Homo sapiens: one gene and its partners. The protein of the gene in region 1 interacts with the protein of each later gene in a pairwise test. Each region holds a gene or a part of one and is shown on either strand. Other genes may lie near its edges. The genes, in order: PLEKHB2, POGZ, ZFAND2A, CLDN19, TAX1BP1, EMP1 and STAM2.

Region 1 (3,500 bases):
TTGTCCCTTTTATTTAGCAAATTAAAAATTTAAAAAAACAAAAAGATACATAGCTCTCTGCAAAACAGGAAAAACTCCCCCAGTCCAGTGGGGGCCCCCACCCCTATTCTGGTATCCTCTAAATGCAAGAGCAAAGTGGTCCTCACTCGGCCCCTAACAGGACTACAGCTCTCACAGCCAGGAAGGCACTCAGAGGCCCCACTGTTACCCAATGCCTTTTAAAAGATGTTACATCAGGCCAGGTGCAATGGCTCACACCTATAATCCCAACACTTTGGGGAGGCTGGGTGAGAGGATCACTAGAGCCCAGGAGTTCCAAGGCCAGCCTAGGCAACAGAGGGAGAGCTCATCTCTACAAAAAACAAGAAATTAACTGGGCATGGTGCTTATGGCCCCAGCTACTCAGAAGGCTAAGTCTCAAGGATCACTCGAGCCCAGGAGCTCGAGACTGCAGTGAGCCAAGATCAAGTCACTGCACTCCAGCCCAGGCAACAAGGCGAGACTGTCTCCAAAAAAATAAAGATGTTACAGCACTCTCAACAGTCCTTTATTCACAAATAAAAACTCTACAATCTAAAATGTATCAAGAGATATGTCCTATACATAAGTCTGTTTTTTACCTTAAAAAACAAAATTCTTCATTAAATTACTCCCCAGTATAATTTAAAGAAAAACATGTTAGCTCTTTAAAAAAAAAGAAAAAGTGGCCAGGCGCAATGGCTCATGCCTTTAATCACAGCATTTTGGGAGGCCAAGGCAGGCAGATCACTAGGTCAGGAGTTGAGACCAGCCTGACCAACATGATGAAACCCCATCTCTACTAAAAATACAAAAATTAGCTGGGCGTGGTGGCACGTGCCTGTAATCCCAGCTATTCAGGATTCTGAGGCAGGAGAACTGCTTGAACCCAGGAGGCAGAGGTTGCAGTGAGCCGAGATCGCTCCACTGCACTCTGGCCTGGGCGACAGAGTGAGACTGTCTCAAAAAAAAAAAATCCACACAAAGAATCATTTGGGGAGCTTGCCCTTAACTGTATGGATTGTTAATGCTAATTTTACCCAAAAAAAAAAAAAAAAAGGGGGATTTTCATGAAGAAAAGGTAACTGCGGCTGTAGAGTAAGCTTAGAATGAAGTTGTTGTGTGCTAACAAAGGAAGAGAACACTGACGCTATTAGGATATTAAGCCTTTTACTTTCTTCTCCCACATGCACACATTCTTCTGTAAGCTTGATCCACCTTCTTCTTTTCTTACAGATTAATAAAGGAGAGAAAAATCCCATCTAAAGAATGAAAACTCTGACCAGAGTAACACACTCCCTTGATCACTGACAGATAAAGACAGCATTACGAGGCTCTACAAATGAGGTTCACTGTCTCAGTGACCTCCTAAGGCCAGAAACAGGACGAGAGACAAGTACAAGTCACAAAAATGTTTGTTTCACAGGCTGAGCTCCCATGCGTGAAAAGGATCCTGCAGTTCTTTCTAAGCCTTTACTGCAAACCACAGCACAATTCAAAGTGTTGCAGAACTTTGAGAAATACAAGCATTTCTAGAAAGCAACACTGGAACAAGCATGCCTGTAAGAGCAGGGTGCCTCCTGCCAAACATTTGACAAACCCAGCTTGCTCACTGTTGGCAAAAGGCGCCCTGCCCAGCACTACCTGCCCATTCGTGGCCAGATGGTCAAGAAACCCGTTTTCCCCATTCTCCAATTGTTACACAAGACCATGTGAAAACATTACTGGTGGCCGGGTGTGGTGGCTCATGCCTGTAATCCCAGCACTTTGGGAGGCGAAAGTGGGAGGATCACTTGAGCCCAGAAGTTGGATACCAGCATGGGTAATATAGTGAGACTTCGTCTCTACAAAAAAATTTTTTCAAATAAGCTGGGCGTGGTAGCATGGGCCTATAGTCCCAGCTACTGGGAAGGGGAGGCTGAGGTGGGAGGACTACTTGAGCCCGAGAGGTAGAGGCTGCAGTGAGGTGAGACAGCACCACTGCACTCAAGCCTGAGTGAGAGTGACACCTTGTCAAAAAAAAAAAAAATTATTGGTGATTGCCATTAGCAACTTACTGTGTTTGTCCTAGAATCTTGGAGTGTAAATTTCCAGGCCCTGGAGAAAAGAAAAAGGGTACTTTATTTAAGGCAATCCAACATTGCAATGATTCTGAAACCTGGGCTGGCATCAGAATTCCTGAAAAGATCTGTTTAAAAAACAAGTCTTCAGGCTTTGCCCCAAACCACTTGAGACATGCACTAGGAATATATATTTTTAAAAATTACATACATAATAGATATGTAATATTTAAAACATAATCTATACTATACTTTTTACTTTACTTTTTAATAAATGTGAAATGTACTGCCACTTGCTTTGTCAGTTCATGGCATACACACAGATCTACTTCCTTTTTACCAGCTATATAATATTCCACGATATGAGTAAAAAATTTAGATTAGCAATTTTTCAACATTAAAAAGAATGCTGGGGACCGGATGTAGTGCCTCATACCTGTAATCCCAGCACTATGGGAGGCCAAGGCAGGGGGATCACTTGAGCCCAGGAGTTCAAGACCAGCCTGGGCAACATAGTGAAATCCTAGCTCTACAAAAAATATAAACATTAGCCGGGCATGGTGGCGCATGCCTGCAGTCCAAGCTACTTGGGAGGCTGAGGTGGGAGAATAGCTTGCGCCTGGGAGGTCGAGGCTGTAGTGAGCCAAGATCACACCACTGCACTCTAGCCTGGATGAGAGAGAGGGGCTCTATCTCAAGAAAAAAAAAAGAAGAAAAGAATGCTATTAACATCCCTATTACCCTTACACTCTTATGTAAACATCTCCACAGGGCAAATTCCAAAGACTGAAAATACCACATCAAAGGATAAAAACATAATTTATTTCAGCAGGTATTGCCAAAATGCCCTGCAAAACGATTCTAACAATCTCTATACCTACCAACTTTACACTATATTGTCAAAAAAAACTAGATATCTGAACCTTAAGTATCACAAGAGCTTTCTTAATTCATAGGCAAAAAGCAGTCTCTCACGCCTGTAATCCCAGCACTTCGGGAGGTCAAGGTAGGTGATCACCTGAGGTCAGGAGTTCGAGACCAGCCTGGCCAACATGGTAAAACCAAGCTTCTACTAAAAACACAAAATTAGCTGGGCGTGGTGGCACATGCCTGTAATTTCAGCTACTCCAGAGGCTGAGGCAGGAGAAGTGCTTGAACCCGGGAGGCAGAGGTTGCAATGAGCGGAGATTATACCATTGCACTCTAGCCTGGGCAACAAGAGCGAAACTCCATCTCAAAAAACAAAATAGTGTTCTCTTGTGCACTCCCTCACTCCTTTACCCCTTACTTTTCTTACTGACCCTATCCCTCTTATCTTCATCAATTCCTTTTATGTTTTATTCTCATTTTACTATCTCCCTGAGTTGAAAGATTCATTCACTTATTTTCAAGTGTTCTGGCTTTCTTTTTTTTTTTTTTTTT
Region 2 (3,500 bases), on another chromosome or scaffold:
ACTGAAAATCACTGATCAAACTGAATACATGTTCTGAAAACGAGGGCAATTAAAAAAAAATCATCCCACATTCTATACATAAAGAACTATCATTTCTTTTTAAAAATATTTGTCCTCTCAGGCCAGGCACAGTGGCTCACGCCTGTAATCCCAGCACTTTGGGAGGCCGAGGTGGGCGGATCACGAGGTCAGGAGATCAAGACCATCCTGGCTAACACGGTGAAACCCCGTCTCTATTAAAAATACAAAAAATTAGCCAGGCGTGGTGGCGGCCGCCTGTAATCCCAGCTACTCGGGAGGCTGGGGCAGGAGAATGGCATGAACCTGGGAGATGCAGCTTGCAGACTGCACCACTGCACTCCAGCCTGGGAGACAGTGCGAGACTCCGTCTCAAAAACTCTGCAAGAGAGCAGAACAAGGTTCTTATGAATTATTCAAATGGTTATATCTTGTATGTTAAAAATTTTTTTATAAAATCCATATATATCTAGTCTGTTTCATCCTATAATCACCTACCTGTGAAACTTGATTTTTTTTTTTTTTTTTTTTTTTTTTGAGACGGAGTCTTGCTCTGTCACCCAGGCTGCAGCGCAGAGGCACGATCTCGGCTCACTGCAACCTCCGCCTACCGGGTACAAGTAATTCTCCTGTTTCAGTCTCCCAAGTAGCTGGGACTACAGGTGCCCACCACCACGGCTGGCTAGTTTTTGTATTTTTAGTAGAGATGGGTTTTCACCATATTGGCCAGGCTGGTCTTGAACTCCTGACCTCAGGTGATCCACCTGCCTTGGCCTCCCCAAAGTGCTGGGATTACAAGTATGAGCCACAGCACCCAGCCAGGAACTTGATTTTATCTTCATATTCATCTGACAACTTTTAGGTCACAGGGTCTTTGTCGCCTGGGCTGTAGTGCAGTGGCGCGATCTCAACTCACTGCAGCCTCGACCTCTTGGGCTCAAGCAATCCTCCCGTCTCAGCCTCCCAAGTAGCTGGGACTACAGGCATGTGCTACCACGCCTGGTTAATTTTTGTATTTTCTATAAAGCTAGAGTTTTGCCATATTGCCCAGGCTGGTCTTGAACTTCAGGACTCAAGTGATCTGCTTGCCTTGGTCTCCCAAAGTGCTGGGTTTTACAGGCATGAGCAGTCGTGCCCAGCCTCCCCAGTTCTAAATTTTTTCTTGTTGTGGCCCCTTTACAATTCCTCTACAGGTTACTTTTGCTACATATAAACTCTTCTAGCTTCTTCAACTTTCAAATCATTTTTGCAGAGGGCAATGCCTCAAAGTGACAAAATGGAAACCTATTTCTATGTTCTTCCTCAAAAATCTTATTTATGGTTGAACTTAAAAGTTACAGTAGCTCTGTATCTCAAAAGCCAAAGGTTATGATTGTAATATGTTTAAATAGAAAAACCTTAGCCAGGACCGGTGCAGTGGCTCACGCCTGTAATCCCAGCACTTTGGGAGGCCGAGGTGGGTGGATCACTTGAGGTCAGGAGTTCAAAACCAGCCTGGCCATGACCATGACCAGAGATGTGGTGAAACCCCGTCTCTACTAAAAAAAAAAAATACAAAAATTAGCCAGGTGTGGTGGCACACGCCTGTAATCCCAGCTATTCAGGAGGCTGAGACAGGAGACTGCCTCAAAGGGAAAGAAAAAAGAAAAACATTAACCAATAAACTACTGACTAATAATTCACATTAGTTATCAGCTGTTTTGTCTATGGCATTTTTTTGCAAACAAATACACAAGAAAAGCCAAAAACAATGTATGAAGTATTACTGACAATAATATTTAACCTGAATCAAATCAATTATTTATTTATTTTATTTTTTTTTAAATTTTTTGAGATGGAGTTTCACTCTTGTTGCCCAGGCTGGAGCCCAATGGCGCGATCTCAGCTCACTGCAACCTTCACCTCCTGGGTGCAAGCGATTCTCTTGCTTCAGCCTCTCAAGGAGCTGTAATTACAGGCATGCGTTACCATGCCTGGCTCATTTTGTACTTTTAGTAGAGATGGGGTTTCATCATGTTGGTCAGGCTGGTCTTCAACTCCTGACCTCAGGTGATCCACCCGCCTCAGTCTCCCAAAGTGCTGGGATTACAGGTGTGAGGCACCGCGCCTGGCCCAAATCCATTATTTAAATGTAACTTTGCGTTTACAAGAAATACAGCAATAAAAGAACAAATTAAGTATCACCACAAAGAAATAATGAGATAAATCCAGAAGGTGGGACATTCTAGAAGGAAATAATCAAATGCAGAATATGGAACATTCTATAAAACTAATAGAAGTCTCTTTAAAAATGTCAATGTTCGGCTGGACGCGGTGGCTCACGCCTGTAATCCCAGCACTTTGGGAGGCCAAGGCAGGTGGATCACCTCAGATCAGGAGTTCGAGACCAGCCTGACCAATATGATGAAACCCAGTCTCTACTAAAAATACAAAAATTAGCCGGGCGTGGTGGTGGGCACCTGTAATCCCAGCTACTCAGGAGGCTGAGACAGGAGAATTGCTTGAACCCGGGAGGTGGAGGTTGCAGTGAGCCGAGATGGTGCAATTGCACTCCAGCCTGGGCAACAAGAGCAAGACTCCGTCTCAAAAAAAAAAAAAAAAAAAAAAAAAGTCAATGTTGGCCGGGCATGGTGGCAGGCCAAGGTGGTAGGATTGCTTAAGGTCAGGAGTTCAAGACCAATCTGGGAAACAGAACCGATCCCTCTAAAAAATTTTTAAACAGAAAGGATAATCATATTATATTCATGTAGGAGAATGTATTTATTCCTAGGAAATGCACAAAATATTTAATAGAAATATCTTGAAAGTGACTTTCAAGGGGTTAAGCAAATACATAGATATTTGGCTTTTTTTTTTGAGACAGGGTGTCATTCTATCCCCCAGGCTGGAGTGCAGTGGCACAATCACGGCTTATTGCAGCCTCAACCTCCTGGGCTCAGGTGATCCTCCTGCCTCAGCCTCCCAAGTAGTTGTCACTACAGGTGGGCTATTTTGATATTTTCTTATAGATACTAGTATGCCAACTTTCAAAAAATATTTGGCATGGGCCAAAACATTAAAAATCATCCTGTCACCAGGCGCAGTGGCTCACGCCTGTAATCCCAGCACTTTGGGAGGCCAATGCAGGCGGATCACAAGGACAGGAGTTCGAGACCAGCCTGGCCAACACAGTGAAACCCCGTCTCTACTAAAAATACAAAAATTAGCCATGCGTGGTGGCTGGTGCCTGCAGTCCCAGCTACTCGGAAGGCTGAGGCAGGATAATCGCTTGAATTCGGGAGGCAGAGGTTGCAGTGAGCCAAGATTGTGCCACTGCACTCTAGTCTAGGCAACAGAGCGAGACTCTGTCTTAAAAAAAAAAAGTCACTCTGTCTAGGTGGTGGATAGTTTAAGTGTTCCTTGTAGAATTCTTTCACCCTTTTCTTTTTTCTTCTTTTTGTGATGGAGTCTCGCTCAGTTGCCCAGGCTGGAGTGATCTTGGC
Region 3 (2,395 bases), on another chromosome or scaffold:
TTCCTGCAGGTAAGCAACTACCACTGGCCTGGCCCAGGGATGGACGCCAGACACCACCAGGTGCAACAGTTGAGGCAAATACAGATGCTTCTCGATTTGACAAACATTAGCATTACGAGTTGAATCATGTCCCCACAAGACATGCTGGAGCCCTAGACTCGGGACCTCAGAGTGTGACCTTCTGTGGACACAGGGTCTTTTCAGAGGTCACGACTGTGGGATCACATGACCAGCATCCTTACAAAAAGGGGAAGTCGGGACACACACAGAATGCCATGTGAAGATGAAGGTGGAGACGGGGGTTGTGCATTGACGAGCCCCGAGATGCTGGGGAGACGCAGCCGATGCTCCCCGCAGCCCTCAGAAGGGGCTGGCCCTGCCGACATCCTGCGCCTGGACCTCCAGCCCCCAGAACTGTGAAAGAACCGATTTCTATGGTTTGAGCCACCCAGTTTTTAGTACTTGGTGACGGCAGCAGTGGGCAATGAGAACAACTAGAATCAACTTCAGCATTCAATTTTATTATAGTCCCATCTCCCTCAACAAACAAGATCAGCAGCCAGTGTGGGATGGTGCTCAATGGGGCTCCACTTCCCACTAGAGTGTAAGCTGCTTCCACGCATGCTACTGCGTGCTCCGAGCCATCGCAGCGGAGTCTCTTCTCACCCAGCTTTGATGGTGGGGCGACTCCCGTGTCTGCAGCTGTGGTCCAAAGGGTGTCTGTGCTGGATACAGAAGTTGCCGTGACATTGGGCACATACCATCTGCAGCATCTCTTTCTTCTTGCAGCCCTCTTTTGAGCAACGGTATGTAAAAATCTAAGAGAGCAAAGTGACTTCAACAAGCAATTCTTTTTTTGGAGACAGGGTCTCGCTCTGTTGCCCAGGCTGGAGTGCAGTGGCTTGATCTTGGCTCACTGCAACCTCTGCCTCCTGGACTCAAGTGATTCTCCTGCTTCAGCCTAGTACCTGGTACTACAGGCACACACCGCCACGTCCAGCTAATTTTGTCTATTTTCACAGAGATGGGGTCTTGCCATGCTGCCCAGGCTGGTCTCAAACTCAGCCTCAGGTGATCCTCCCGCCTTGGCCTCCCAAAGTGCTAAGATTACCTGTGTGAGCCACTGTGCTGGCCTTAAATTCTTTAACAGCCTCCGGTAAGAACATTCCCATTTAAACTGGACACAGTTCCTGTCTGCACAGAGTACAGATGCAAAGTTTCATTTGACCATCTCAGTGCAGGTAAGAAGAACATGGGGCTGGACCCAGTGGCTCACGCCTGTCATCCCAGCACTTTGGGAAGCCAAGATGGGTGGATTGCCTGAGCTCAGGAGTTCGAGACAAGCTTGGGCAACATGGTGAAACCCCATCTCCACTAAAATATAAAAGATTAGCCAGGCATGGTGGCGTGGTGCCTGTAATCCCAGCTACTTGGGAGGCTGAGGCAGGAGAATTGCTAGAGGAGGCAGAGGCGGCAGTGAGCTGAGATTGTGCCACTGCACTCCAGCCTGGGCGACAGAGCAAGAGTTCGTCCCTTTAAAAAGAAAGAAAAAAAAAAGCCGGTCAGCATTGAAGCTGGGGATTCCCGTGAAGATGGCCCGGAGGTGCTGCTGGGAGGACAACAGAGAGAGGCAGCCAGGAAGCAGGGAGCGGGAGGGAAGGAGGCCAAGCACAGATGACAGGCAAGCCCCACAGAGGCACTGGCTCCAGGAGCCCTGGGACAGTGGAGGTTGTCCCCATCAAGGGAATATCTATCATGTCCCAGTACCCACCGGTCATTTTTTTTTTTTTTTTTTTTGGTGCCAGGATGTAGGCAGCGATATAAAGTCCTAGGAGTCAGAACTCCAAGAGGGGAAGGCAGTGAGGAGAGTGGGGAGGGTTCCAGCAGCCGGGGGTGGCCCTCCGGCCAAGGCAGGCAGGCATGGCCATGCTGAGCGACCATGCAGGAGGGACCCGTGCAGGGATGCAGGCAGAACACAGGGCGTGCCCACCAAAAGGACAGGAGCACAGCGGGCCAGGAGCAGCCGGGAGGGCATTCCTGTGTGGGGGCCTTGGGGCAGTGCTGGGTGAGCCCCCAGCAAGGGAAGCTGTGTCATGTGGAAGAAGCGGGTGTGCCAGAGAGCTGTGATGTCTCAGAGGCTTAAGAGACCTCCAGAGGCTGAGGGTCCCAGGGCACAGCCACAGCAGGGAGAGCTAGACAGGGCCAGAAAGTGGGGACCAGAGCAAGCTTCCGCACAGAGAATTTTGTGTGGCAGACTAAGGAACACTGATTTTATTCTCTATGTTTGAGACCAAAAGTTATTTGGTTTATGGTAATATAACTGTAAAGTATTGAACATCATATACTAAGATAGTTGGTAACCACCAACCAGGACCCATGACTAGGAACGGATTAA
Region 4 (2,322 bases), on another chromosome or scaffold:
GAGCCCCAGGGGTCAGCACTGACCACTCTGACACAGGCCCCGTCCAAGCCACGCTGAGGACAGACCGAATGATACCATGATTGGGGCTGGATGTTCACTTCTCTTTCCAAAAAAATATGAAACACACAGTCTAGGTATGGCAGGGGACAGAGCCTGGCTGGGGACTGGACATTACACACCCAGGGGGCCCTTGGCGGAGGCGGGCAATTTAACAACTGGTCTGAAAGTCAAAAGAGAGAGAGCTGGTTAGTGGAGTGAGCTGTGGGGTCGGGGGCAGGGGCTGTGCATTCAGGCCCGGACATGGGTACTGGCCAGCGTGGCCAGACCTTGGCCCTCACAGCAGCCCTGCCTGGGGCCCATTCCCGGGGGCAGGGGCGCCATGGTCCGACCTCACCATCTGTGTAGGTGGCCCCCAGCCCTGGGCGCACTGGAAGAACCTGAGACCTAAACTCAGACCCTCCCTGTCCTTGTGTGAACGTTCAGCATCCCGGCACTGCCCTTGTGGGGTTGCTGTGAGGAGCCCATGGGACTGGGGAGGGTGAAGGTTTCTGCTCACCCCAAGGACCTGGGTACTAAGGTACGTCTTGGCCACTGCTCTATCTCTAGGGCCCAGCACGTAGCAGACACCCAAGCAGCTCTTCAGTGAGTAAACAGCCGGGCTGGTGCCTGAGGGCCTGTCTCCAGGGATGCATGCTGGTGCCCACCAGGCTGTGCAGACAAGACCGTGCCTGGACCTGCATCTGTGTGTATGCCTGGGGGCTGGGTCCTGCCTCTGGTGTCTCTCTGAGGATCTGGGTCTCAGATTGCAGGGTGGGTGCTTGTGTTGAGGACAAGCTGCTCAGAGCACCTATGCCCATCCTATGCCCCAGTGGCCCTGCCCAGGGTGCTGCGAGGCTGGCTGGATGCTGGGCAAGGGGGCCACTGGGTGGGGGGCTGGCCAGGGCAGGCGGAGCTCAGACGTACTCTCGGGCAGCAGCAGAGGGTCCAGGCCGATAGGGCTGTGGGCTGCTGTTGGGTCTCTCTGGCTCCGGGCATGTGCAGCAGAGGAAGGAGCCGCCCAGCACGGCCAGGCCAGCTGAGGCCCAGCCCACGAACAGGGCTGGGCCAAATTCATACCTGCAAGGGGTAGGGAGAGTGGCATCAGGTGTGGCTGCCGTCTCAGGTTGTTCCCAGTCCCTGCCCTGGCAGAGGAAGGGCAGAGTGTGTGGAGCTGGAGGCTGGAGCCTCACAACCTCTTCCATATCTCCAGATAAATTGAGGTGAATGCTCTTCCTTTCTCCCTCCCCCCCAGCCCAGAATATCAACACCACACAGGGTGACCCGGCCTGGGGTAGGCGTGAAGGCTAGAGGCTGGGCCTCCAGCTCCTGCTCTGAGCAACCTTGGGCTCATTTCCTGATCTGGCCAGTGGAGGGGGCATGGGAGGGCCTGAGAGGTCTGCACGGGAGGAGTGGGGCAATCCCTGCCATGTTTTTTCCCAGTCACATTCTGGCCCACAGAACTCCCAGCCAAGACTGCTCCCGCTGCCCTCTGGAGAAGGCCAGACCCTTCCACCTGGCACTCTGGGCTCTCCACACCCAGACCCTGCTGGCCAGGCCAGCCCTGCTCCTGGTTCTCACTGCCTTGGTGCCTTTGCACAAGGCACCCCCAGCTGGGGCACCAAGCCCCCCAGCCCACCACTCCTGTGCCTCCCCTGTTCCTTCTCTGCCTTCAGAGCCCAGTTCAGATGCCACCTCTTCGTGGGGTCTTTCCTTGACATCCTCTGTGTTCACCCCGCCCCTTGCGCCGACTCCACTACCATGCTTTCTCCAGGAGGCCTCAGCCCCTTGCTTGTCCGGCTCCCTGGGAAGCCCCTTGAGGGCAGACAGAGCCATCAGTGTCCCCAGGACCCAGCACAGGGCCTGGCAGCCCAAGTGGCATTGGGGACTGTTGAAGGGATCGGGGGCCGAGTCCTATCCTGACATGCCTGAGCTGGACCTTGCTTGGCAGACTTTGTGGCTGCAGCCACCACCCAGGGAACAAACCTTGTACCTGAGATCTCCTCCCTCCCCTTGCCTCTCAACACCTCTGCCTCCTCCAGGCATCCCTCCCGATTGCAAAAGCCCAGACATCTTTTCTCATCCTCTCTCCACCCCAAGGCCCAAAGCCCATTGGGATGTCTAGGGTTAAGACTGTCCCATTCTCTGCTCCTGGCTAGGCTGAGAAGTGAGGGAGGAGCCAAGGTGGGCCCAGGCCCTTTGCAGAGCATCCCCTTCAGTTCCCATGCCCACAGTCTTACAAGTCCTGGTTATCTCCTGAATATCAGCCTGCTTTCCACTGCTCCC
Region 5 (3,500 bases), on another chromosome or scaffold:
TGGTAGCAAAGTCCCTTTATTAGTGCAGAGGTAAAGGGGGATTGCTACTGAATATACTCTTTATCTTGGAATGCTTGCAAACCTCAGGTAGGGAGAGGCTGACAACTAGCCTGATACTCTACAGTGGTTTCCAGGTTCATGATTGACAGTCTCTTTTTGGGATATCCATTATATTCAGTAAAGCAGGACTTTGGCCATAACAGAAGCAGAGGGGACACAAGAAGAAAGTTGATATTTTTTAAAGTGCTTATTATTACAAAACTTTAAAAATTTGCCTTAGTATTTCAAACAGGTCAGCAAAAGAAACAGTTGTAAAAGCACACTGTTTTAGATCTTAGCAATAAGCCTTCTTACTAATGGCTAAAATATGAGTAGAGCCTTACTGCTGTGCTTGCTCTGTAGAAACTTCATTGATTTGTGAAGTAAATTAGATTAATTTGGTTAGCAAAAACCTTGCCCCAGTTTTCCCCATTATTACAGAGATGCCTGTTTTAATGACTCAAGCAAGTGCAGTCAGGACAGTCATAGTTTCTTATGTGTATTGTAGAATTAGTGATTGTACGGAGCCTGTGACAAACTCTACAGATTGCTTTTTTGGGTAAATCCTCATTTGTTTCTGTTTTCTCAAAAGTAGAGCACAAAATAGGGAAAACATTTGGATCTTGCAGTTTTTATAATCTGCTTTCACCATTCATCTGCTATCCAGTGCTTGGTGTTTACTAAGCCAGTGAGCGTTCATGAATCTCTAAGAGATTTTCAACAGTGTGTATTTTATTAACACTACACTTTTATTTTTATTTTTAAATATAAGTTTATTTTAATCAGTAAACATGTGGAAAGGGTACGTGAATACTAGAAGTTGAGGTAGGATCATTGATTGGACCTATGATGAAATGATAGGTTTGTTATAGGTGGAGAAGAACAAATAGGCTGAGCCATTTCAAGTAGACCAGCTAAGATTTTACATGGTTTGAGAGATTTGAACAAGCTTGTAACAGAAGCCCAAGAAGACAGGCTGGGTCTGGGATCTGTGGAAATGAGTGAGAGGTAGAAGTTGTTGGATAGTGGTTCTCTTTTCTGGTTGCATACAGGATTGAGATTACTTGGGGCGATGTAGGGGCAGGGCTATGTATATTCGTATACACACCCACAGACACACATGCACACACTCCCAGGCCCCAATCCCAGAAAGTTGTTGTCATCTATTTTTTTTTTTTAAAGGCCCCTAATGATTCTAATGTGTAACCAGGGTTGAGAAATGCTGGTCCAGGGGATTAGAAGGGCAGGAATGTAGGCACAGAGATGTTAGCGTCAGGTTTAGTTATAGGACCCCAAAACCTAGGGAGAGGGGAAGAGATGAATGGGATGGGCTAGGTTAGGGAGGAGAATGATGAAGCCCAAGGGTTCTACATAGGAAGGAAATGTTAATTGACCCATAGCCAGTAAAATACTGACTTTTAACTGTTCTTGTTTCTGTTTCTTAGTGTTTGTTACTAGGAGCCAGCAGGTTTATATTGGCAGCGTGTGCACAAAAACACCTCTGGTTCATTTGCTTTTGATTTAAATAGAAGCAGAGGGCTAGGCTTTCCAGGAGAGTTAATTTTTGGTTTTGGTTTTTTAACTTTTAAATGCCCATATAACTTTCTGAGCCAAATGGGTTTTAGTTATTTTTCCAGTTTGTCTGTATTTTTATATTTAATCAATTTTTAAGAAGTTCCAGTATTTACAAAGTATATATTTTCTTAATTATGACATGCAAATATTCATGAAACTTATATTAAATATTATGTATTTTCTGAAGGCATAAGTTTATTCTTAGTTGGTATAATTTAACTTGTATGAATTACTTGTTTCAGATTCACAATGACATCCTTTCAAGAAGTCCCATTGCAGACTTCCAACTTTGCCCATGTCATCTTTCAAAATGTGGCCAAGAGTTACCTTCCTAATGCACACCTGGAATGTCATTACACCTTAACTCCATATATTCATCCACATCCAAAAGATTGGGTTGGTATATTCAAGGTAAGAAAGCTTTCTGAATATGTTCTCCATGTAAACACTTAAAATTTTCTTTTAAAACAGATTGATAAGTAGCTTTTACTTGCCTTAACTCTGCATTAAGACTCATTTTTGTAAACATCACCATGAAATATTTAACAGTGGGGAGTAGATAAAATGGATGTTGGGAACTCCATTTCACCAGATTTTCCTCTCCCTGATCAGAAAGTTTACCTTCACTTAAGGACTTGTGAAAATTTTTTCAGAATCTTCTTTTCCTATTTTCTCCATTCATTACCTGCAATAAAAAAAGATCTTTTTCTTTGGGTTCTTATATTATTTACCATTTTTTCCAGTCATTTGAAATTAATTTTATACAGCTTGACAGCCATGTTATTATCCCTTCTACTGTCCTGCATGGCTTAAATATTGCTCAGATTGTATTACACAGTTTTAAGAGTATTCTGTTTGTATTACACAGTTTTAAAGTATTCTGTTTAACATGACTGAATAGTAAACTCTTTGATGGCAGGAGTTCTAGTTCTTATATTTTACCAGTGATTTTGTATAATACTTTCTTGAAAATGAAGGTGATCATTACAGTGGTACACCTCACTGTGCAGGACTTTTTCTGGCAATTTTAACTCTTCAAAATGTAGTGGAAAACCAAAACATAAGAATGTCCTCTGAGCAGTCAAAATAATGTCACGAATGTCCAAACAGTAAAACACATTCACTTTTCTCCTGTGTTATTCTGTAGTCTTCCTCAGAATCAGTTTGTTTTATTTTAGTTAAGATTTTTATGGGCTTGAAATTTTGATTGTCTAATCTGTATAAAGTTAAACAACAAGGAAGAAAGAAATGAATAGCTGCTAGAAATTAGGCACATTGAAAGTGTCTAGAAGTAAAAGTCCAGCCTGACGGGAAGGCAGAAAAACATTTGGACAAAACAATTTTGGCATTTAATGACTTAGTTCCTTTCTTTGAATTCCTCATTTCTTGATGTTTCTGAATACAACACAATAGTTATTTACTGTTTACTTTTTGTGTCAGTTTTTTAGGCTTGTCAAATCCCAAAATGGAGAAACATTCATTGTAACAATTTTATGAAATTAGGAGTAGTTTTTAAATTTTATTTCTTATTTTTTGAGACAGGGTCTTATTCTATCACTCAGGCTGGAGTGCAGTGGTGGGATAGTGGCTTACTGCAACCTGACCTCCTGGGCTCAAGTGATCCTTTCCCCGCAGCCTTCCAAATAGCTGGGATTATAGACACAACACCACGCCTGGCTAATTTTTAAAATTTTTTGTAGAGACAGGGTCTCACTATGTTGCCTAGGCTGGTTTTAACTTCCTAGGCTTAAGTGATCCTCCTGTCCCAGCCTCCCAAAGTGCTGGGATTACAGGTGTGAGCCACCGCACCTGGCCTCAGTAGTAGTTTCGATTTTATGGGAGATACTGGTATCAAGTTAAAGATACTGATTGAGAACTGATGTTTT
Region 6 (3,500 bases), on another chromosome or scaffold:
AGAGGTGCATAATTTGGTTCCCTGATTGCTAACCTAGGAGTCAGATAACTTCTTCCTGTCCAGAAGTCTGTGTGTTCACTGAACTGCCATGGGGCCTGGCGGCAGCAGCAATTCTTTAAGAGTGACCTAAAACACAATAACTGGGAGCAACACAATAGAATAGAGCAACCAAAAACCCACTTCCCCAGTGAAGGAAGTGGTCAAAATCCTGGGGCTTGAGTCACTGAAGAATTAGCCCTAGCTGAGGGGTGGGAGGGGAGCATGCTCAGAAATCAGGAGCTGAAGACGATGCAAACACTGGGGGAGGCCCTCAGGGCTCAAATTTCCATGATTCATTTGAGAGTGGGTGAGATTCTCCCAGAATGAAAGGCATCATGGAGACCTTCTCTACAAAAGGGCACGAGAGAGCTTTCTGAGAAGCAGGGTATGGATCTGGCTGGCATTTCCCTGGCAGCTTAAGAAAGGCCAGGATTTTTCTGGGGAGAAAAGAGCAGTAATGACCACTGCCAAATGTCCTATCTTCCCTTCCCCTCATTCCACTTTTGTTGCCCAAAACATCACAGTCCTACCCTGAGTTTCTACCTCCATTACTTATCTCACATCCTTCCTTATGTTCTATTCCCATTGCTACTGTCCAGTTCAGGTCCTAGCCTGACCATGGCATCAGCCTCACCCATGACCCTGTCTCTGAACAACTCCCCTCTAACATATCTTCTACCCTGCTACTGGGTTATCTGACCATGGCACTCCCCTGCTCAAGAACCTCCAAACCCCCACCTCTAACCACCACCAATCAGCAGGAAAGAGGCTCCACGCACCTCAAGCCAGCCCTTGCAATCCCAGGACTTGGATTTCCAAAAATAAAAGCTCTGCTTTTGTATTCTTCTTTCAGTGACAGTCTATCAAATTCTTTTCAACCAAGCTAAAATCCTACCTCTTCTAAAAAGCCTTCCCAGATCCATAGGTTAGGAGCAGTTTTCTTTTCTCTCTTCTTCTATTGCCCTCACATAGCTTTTTATTAAAACCACTGATGACAGCCCTAAGATTTTAAGTCCCTGAAGGGAGAGTCTTGCCTGTGACAGGTACCAAATAAATATCTGTTCAATGAACAAATAAATGAATTAAGGATGGCCATATTTTCTTCCCCATGGAAAAATAATCAATGTCAAAATGACTGAAGACTTCATAATAAACACAGAATTATAGAGGGAAAATATTTCCTTTTTTTTTTAACATACATAGACTTTAGTCCTTTATTATTTTTCAGAAATTGCTTAATACTTTACTACAACTATGTATTGAGCATCTTATTGTATGCAAACTTTGTTATATATTTCTATATAAATACCTATGTAAATATGTGACTGTTTCCTGAGTGCATTTGAATATACAAGGGTATATATGTGTGTGTTGCCTTTTGTTCAAGAGGAAATAAGTGAATGCAAAGAAAATGTCTTAAATTTCTAAACACTAGTTTGTCTGCAGATTTAATCTTTCTCTCTACTTCTTTGAATTATAGAATCTCAGGACTGAAGAGGGAGGTCTTTAAAATTCCTTTTCAATTCAAGAAAGTCATCTACAAATCTGACCAAAGAACTATCTGAATCATGCTTAACCTCCTCCAGTCATGGAGAGCTCACTACCTACCAGGATCCCTTCCCCGATTAGAAAGATTTTTCTGACAATACGTCCGAGTGTGCTCTTTGCAACGACCACCATGACTTTTAATTCTGCCGGTGAGATTACCTGACTAGACTAATTCTTCCTCTTTCTAGCATGGTTGTCTTCACAGCAGAACTACCAGGTTATCAGAAGATTCACCAGAGGCCTTCACCTTAGATCTCAAAATCTCAGTCAAGTCATAACACAGTCCTGAGATTACTGCTAGACACTCCCTGTCTTTTTGCTGGCCAGTGTTTTTCTGACAGTGAGATTCTGATCTCTTTCTGGATAACTGTAAACTTTGGAGAAAGCTTTCTCACAGCATCTGACCAAAGACGTGGTGCTTCCTCCAAAGCACGAGGAGAGAGAGAGGCGTAGCCGCTTCTGGTCAACTGACCCCCATGAGTCAGACGACCCCACACCACCTTCCTCAGCGTGACACCTGAAACTCCGCAGCTGCCTCTCCTTCCTAAGACACCACGCAGGGTGGCACGAAAGCCTTTCTGTCCTCTGCGCAAGTCGGGAGCATTTTGCTTTTGTTGGTTTGGTTTTGATGTGTTTGTTTCCCATGAAGGATCATTTGGTTGGCAAAATGGATGCGCATGTAACACAAAAGCAGAAAAGGAAGCACTCCCTTCTGGGGGCAGCCGGAGAGGATGTGTCTGGAGGAGGAAAAGACTGGGATTAAAGGCAGGCTGAGTGGATGAGACCTTGGATGAGCCTCTCTGGCCACTGTTATTGTTGTTTTATATCAAGTGTACTTTTCCATTCTCAATATTGTGTTTATGCAGGGGTGGGAAAGCAGGGGATTAATTTCTCCGTGGGAAACATGGGGAGAAAAAGGATTCTCAGGGGCCATTTCCTCCGGCCTCTGCATAGCTCATGTTTGGTGTGGAAGGAAGGAACCTCAGGTAGGACTTGATGTTGGAAAATACAGGGCAGTTTTTACAACCAGGAGAAACATCGTCAATCAAGCAGCAAAAGTAACAGGGACCTACATGCTGCAGGGAAAACAATTATTTTTTTCATCTTCCAAATGCAGGCTATTATAAATGGGGGTTATTATACAGCAAGTCGTGTTGGTCTGGTGCTGTGTAGACTAGCACAGAGTCTCACATAGTCAGGGGTGAGGAGCCAAGGTGTGGGTTGGGAGTGGGGCAAGCACACTGTATGAGAGAGAGAGAACCTATTGGAGAACCAGATTCTTATAATAAATCTGCCCCTGACCAACTTCTGACTTTAGAAAAATCACATAACCTCTCTGGTCAGTGGCTCCTACAGGCACAGAGTTCAAAGTAGCACAGAGCAGGGATTCTCAGCTCCAATCCTGGCTCCACCATGTCTGAACTGTGACCTGTAGACCTCACAGGATTAGCATGAGGGCTGAAGGCCTGTGCCAGGCACAGAGTGGGGGCCACACAGTTCCTGGTTGGTTGGTCTCTTCCTCTGTGTAAAATGAGAGGCTCGGGCCGGGGAAATGGGCTTTATGCTTCTCTGGCAGAGCCTGAGGGCCAACAATTATGCTAAAGGCAAACAAGTGGCATGAATATTGTTTTTGCAAATGCTCCCAAGAAGAATAACCTCTCTCTCTTATTTCCGCTTGTCCTCCTTCGTGTCCAGGGGAGGGGTGGATCTGGGCAACATCTGCAAAGACTGAGGCCAGACCTGGGCTGTGAAGTTGGGGCCCAGCCTACTCCCCCAGACTGCAGCTGGTCAAGGGATCAGGCGATGTTCCCTGGGCGAGGACGGAAGCGTGAGTTGCCTTCTGCTTTTGACAAACGAGTGTTCTGGCAGCCAGAATGTCTTCAAGGGAGAGGTTGCCAAGATAATAACTAGGG
Region 7 (3,500 bases), about 21 Mb from region 1:
CAAAAATATTAAATGCAAAATTACAGATAACAATACATACATTTTAAATAACTTTTATTAGAGTATATTGTTACAACTCTTTCATCTTATTAGTTCTGCTGTTAAGTGCCAAATTCATAAACTTTATCATAGGGATATGTATGCATAGGAAAACAAACAGTATATATAAGGTTCAGTACTATCTGCGGTTTCAGGCATCCACTGGGGATCTTGCAAATGTATCCACCACAGATAAGGGCGGGGGTGAGGGGTGGCTACTGTTAAGTCACATTGTGACATTCCAGGTGTACATGAAATTTGGAGGGACACTATTCACTATATCACACAAGCAACATAATGCCTCTTTTGACACAGTAAGATTTTAAAAAAAAGACTCTCAAACTTTAATTCAGCTTGATAAAATTAGAATTCTTCTTCTGGGGAATTTTCTTTTTGAGACAGGATCTCATTCTGTCAGGCCGGAGTGCAGTGGCGTGATCACACCTCACTGCAGCCTCAAGCAATACTCCCACCTCAGCCTACTGACTAGCTGGGACTACAGGTGCACTACCACACCTGGCTAAGTTTTAAAATTTTTGTAGAGATAGGGTCTTGCCATGTTGCCAGGTTGGTCTCAAACTCCTAGCCTCAAGCAATACTCCTATCTCAGGCTCCCAAAGTGCTGGGATTATAGGCATGAGCCACTGTATCTGGCCTCTGGGGAAAACTTTTAGAAATATACTTTTAATTTTTGAAAGAAAATTAAACCAAACAAAAATCAAATCCCTAAAACTGAGTATTCCCATTTACTAACTGGCTAAAACTGATGATGAAAGAAGAAAAAGTACCTTCCGATAGAAATAAAGCATTATAGATCAGTGCTATTTATAATTTATTACTTATCAAAGTAACTCCAGCTTTCTTATAGCAATTCAATAAGCCCTCTCCTAGAACTCAGGGGCTTTTAAATTTATGTTTTTACTAAGAAAACCTTTTTAAAAAAAATCCCTAAGCTATATGTTTTTAAAACATTTAAAATTGATTTTTTAAATTTTGAAAGTGAAATTATAACCATCTTCAAAACATACAGTAAAATGTATTACGTAGACAAGTATCAATTATTTCAAACAGCATGACAATTTAACTACAAATAATTTCAAATCCTAACAAATATAATTACCTAATGTTTAAGTAATTTTATAAATAAATTACCAAATTAGAAGACAGTATTGGTTGACTACATTTTACAAACTATAAGAATATATCCCACACTTCATATATTTTAACACCCTGGGGTATTTTTCTGCATTAATAAAATTCATTCTATTATAAATTTTCAGGAATTCTTTCTGATGTACCAAGATTTCATATGAAAAAGCAGAAGCTATTTTTTTATTTCTGATATAAAACAGTAAGTATGAACCCAATGTAGAAATCTGAAGTTAGACAATTCCCTTTGGCAGAAAACAATTATAAACAGGTCTTAATATAAATAGAATCCATAAGCCCATAAAAAGGGAAGTACACAACCCTGTGTTTCTTAACACCGAAAGAATCATCAGTACACAGATTTAAAATCATTTTTATCTCTCGACAGCCTGCAACACAAAATTACATATGGCAAAAAATAATTTTTAACTTGAGAAAGAAAAAAACTTCTGCACATATAAACTTTCACCGATGTGCCAATATATACTATATATTTATATATATATATATGTGTCATGTTTTATTATTCTAAAACTACATTATTTATAATGGCTGATCCCAATTTAGTGGGTGTGCAGTAATTATATTGGCTCAAAGACATGCTGAATTAAACTTTTATAATTGAGATCACAATTATACATGAAATACACAAACATTAAAATAAGTTTATTAAATAGAGTTTGGGAGAAAAAAAGTAAGAAATTCCATATATATGCAAATGTTGACTATTATCGAGAGCAGCTTTGGATTTTTTTTAAATGTTTTTTAAAAATTATTATTTTGTAAATAACAGAAGATTTGTTTCCAAAAAGTAAGGTGCCATTCAGAAGTATATAATTGAATTAACATAAAGGAAAATACTGAATAAAAAACAGAACATGAGATATTAAAGGTTAAAACTTTCTGTTCAGTTATTTGTATCTGAAGTTAAGACAATGACATAAACTGAGCTTTCAAATACTGCTAATTTTTCCACTTAAATGTAGATCAAGTACCATATAGACTATTTTGTTCTAGAATAAAGTTTCTTTGAAAAAGGAACATATTTATAATCAAATTTCTGTAGATAAATGGCAAAATTTTCAGAGAACTAGCTTGAAATGGATTTAGTAGAAAGAATGACTGCTTCCTTTAAAAAAACAAATATAGAAATCTTGCTTCCACGTAACTTTTTAAAAACTAATGTCCATTGTTTTTCCCAATCTGAATATGTTTCCATACATGTATGTATTTGCAATTTCTATTTTCCAATATGTAAAAAGTTGGTAGACAATGAAGTAGTGTGCAAATTTTTAGGAGAGAAAACAATCCCTACTGGTTTACTACCAAACTCTCACAGTTATATAGAATCTATTAGCACTATAAACTAACTCAAAATGCAGGCTTCAGAAAAACTGCTTCAATAGCCTCCCTATCAATCTGTCGCCTTCTATGAAGTCTTCACCTGCTATTATTCCACAGGCTGAGAATTACTTCTGAAAGAAATGGTCAATTTTTTCAACAGCTTGGTATGTTGACAGCTTAGCAACGGTACTTGAATCACCTCTTTAAAAAAACAACACACCACTAAAAACACACTTATCATCCATGCTTGGTATATCTCACAACAAATTATTAGGAATGTCTCATGGTTCAAATTCACACGCAATCCCATAAAAAGGATATGCAGCATCTCTGCACACCACATTGCAGGAAGAAAAACAAATGGACCATATCTTCATTAGAGAATAGCCAAAATCACTTGAAAAGGTTATTAGTGACAATTCTAAATACCAGAGATACATGTAGGAAAGAAAATGTTTTTCCTCAGGGAATGGAAATGTTTTGTGGGACATTCCTTCACAGTTGGCATGACTGTTTGGGGGACTGACTAAATGCTTTATCACACATCTGCATTTACAAGGTCTTCACTGTTAATCACAGAAAACATTTTTGTTCCTTCCAGATTGCTCTTGCTTCTGTAGACAATTATATGCTAATTATTATTCAACATAACAGTGAGAGCAAAAGTGACAATACTGCAAACACAACCGCAATTTAAGGAGCCAAAAAGAAATATGCTGGCAAGCTAAATGCTTACACACAAAAAAGTTAGACTTTTAAAGTGTGTGAGAAACTCTGAAAAAAATATTTCAAGTTCTTCAGTGCTCTTATGACATTTTAGGGGGAAACAGTGGTTTCTTTAAAATAATATTTTAATCCTCCTATCTCATACTGTTTATAAGTATGAGATACTTTTGACAAACTCACTCTGTCGATCATGCTACTGCACTCCAGCCTGGGTGACAGAGCGAGTTTGTCATAAGTATCTC

The links.
Region 2: the proteins of PLEKHB2 (region 1) and POGZ interact in binary tests that used the Homo sapiens proteins (3 or more experiments, as listed by UniProt).
Region 3: the proteins of PLEKHB2 (region 1) and ZFAND2A interact in binary tests that used the Homo sapiens proteins (3 or more experiments, as listed by UniProt).
Region 4: the proteins of PLEKHB2 (region 1) and CLDN19 interact in binary tests that used the Homo sapiens proteins (3 or more experiments, as listed by UniProt).
Region 5: the proteins of PLEKHB2 (region 1) and TAX1BP1 interact in binary tests that used the Homo sapiens proteins (3 or more experiments, as listed by UniProt).
Region 6: the proteins of PLEKHB2 (region 1) and EMP1 interact in binary tests that used the Homo sapiens proteins (3 or more experiments, as listed by UniProt).
Region 7: the proteins of PLEKHB2 (region 1) and STAM2 interact in binary tests that used the Homo sapiens proteins (3 or more experiments, as listed by UniProt).

Annotation. Positions count from the first base shown.
Region 1 is NC_000002.12:131,129,336-131,132,835, reverse strand, and holds part of PLEKHB2 (pleckstrin homology domain-containing family B member 2), read right to left. Parts: intron 2,116-3,500; coding exon 2,076-2,115; intron 1-2,075. UniProt on the Homo sapiens protein: Involved in retrograde transport of recycling endosomes.
Region 2 is NC_000001.11:151,449,495-151,452,994, forward strand, and holds part of POGZ (pogo transposable element with ZNF domain), read right to left. Parts: intron 1,455-3,500; exon of another isoform or gene 1,416-1,454; intron 1-1,415. UniProt on the Homo sapiens protein: Plays a role in mitotic cell cycle progression and is involved in kinetochore assembly and mitotic sister chromatid cohesion.
Region 3 is NC_000007.14:1,152,407-1,154,801, forward strand, and holds the end of ZFAND2A (AN1-type zinc finger protein 2A), read right to left. Parts: intron 836-2,395; exon of another isoform or gene 819-835; coding exon 663-818; 3' UTR 501-662; downstream 1-500.
Region 4 is NC_000001.11:42,734,915-42,737,236, forward strand, and holds part of CLDN19 (claudin-19), read right to left. Parts: intron 1,117-2,322; coding exon 964-1,116; coding exon of another isoform or gene 848-963; exon of another isoform or gene 221-847; coding exon 172-220; 3' UTR 1-171. UniProt on the Homo sapiens protein: Forms paracellular channels: coassembles with CLDN16 into tight junction strands with cation-selective channels through the strands, conveying epithelial permeability in a process known as paracellular tight junction permeability.
Region 5 is NC_000007.14:27,746,662-27,750,161, forward strand, and holds part of TAX1BP1 (tax1-binding protein 1), read left to right. Parts: intron 1-1,856; 5' UTR 1,857-1,863; coding exon 1,864-2,025; intron 2,026-3,500.
Region 6 is NC_000012.12:13,203,226-13,206,725, reverse strand, and holds part of EMP1 (epithelial membrane protein 1), read right to left. Parts: intron 1-3,500.
Region 7 is NC_000002.12:152,116,764-152,120,263, forward strand, and holds the end of STAM2 (signal transducing adapter molecule 2), read right to left. Parts: 3' UTR 38-3,500; downstream 1-37.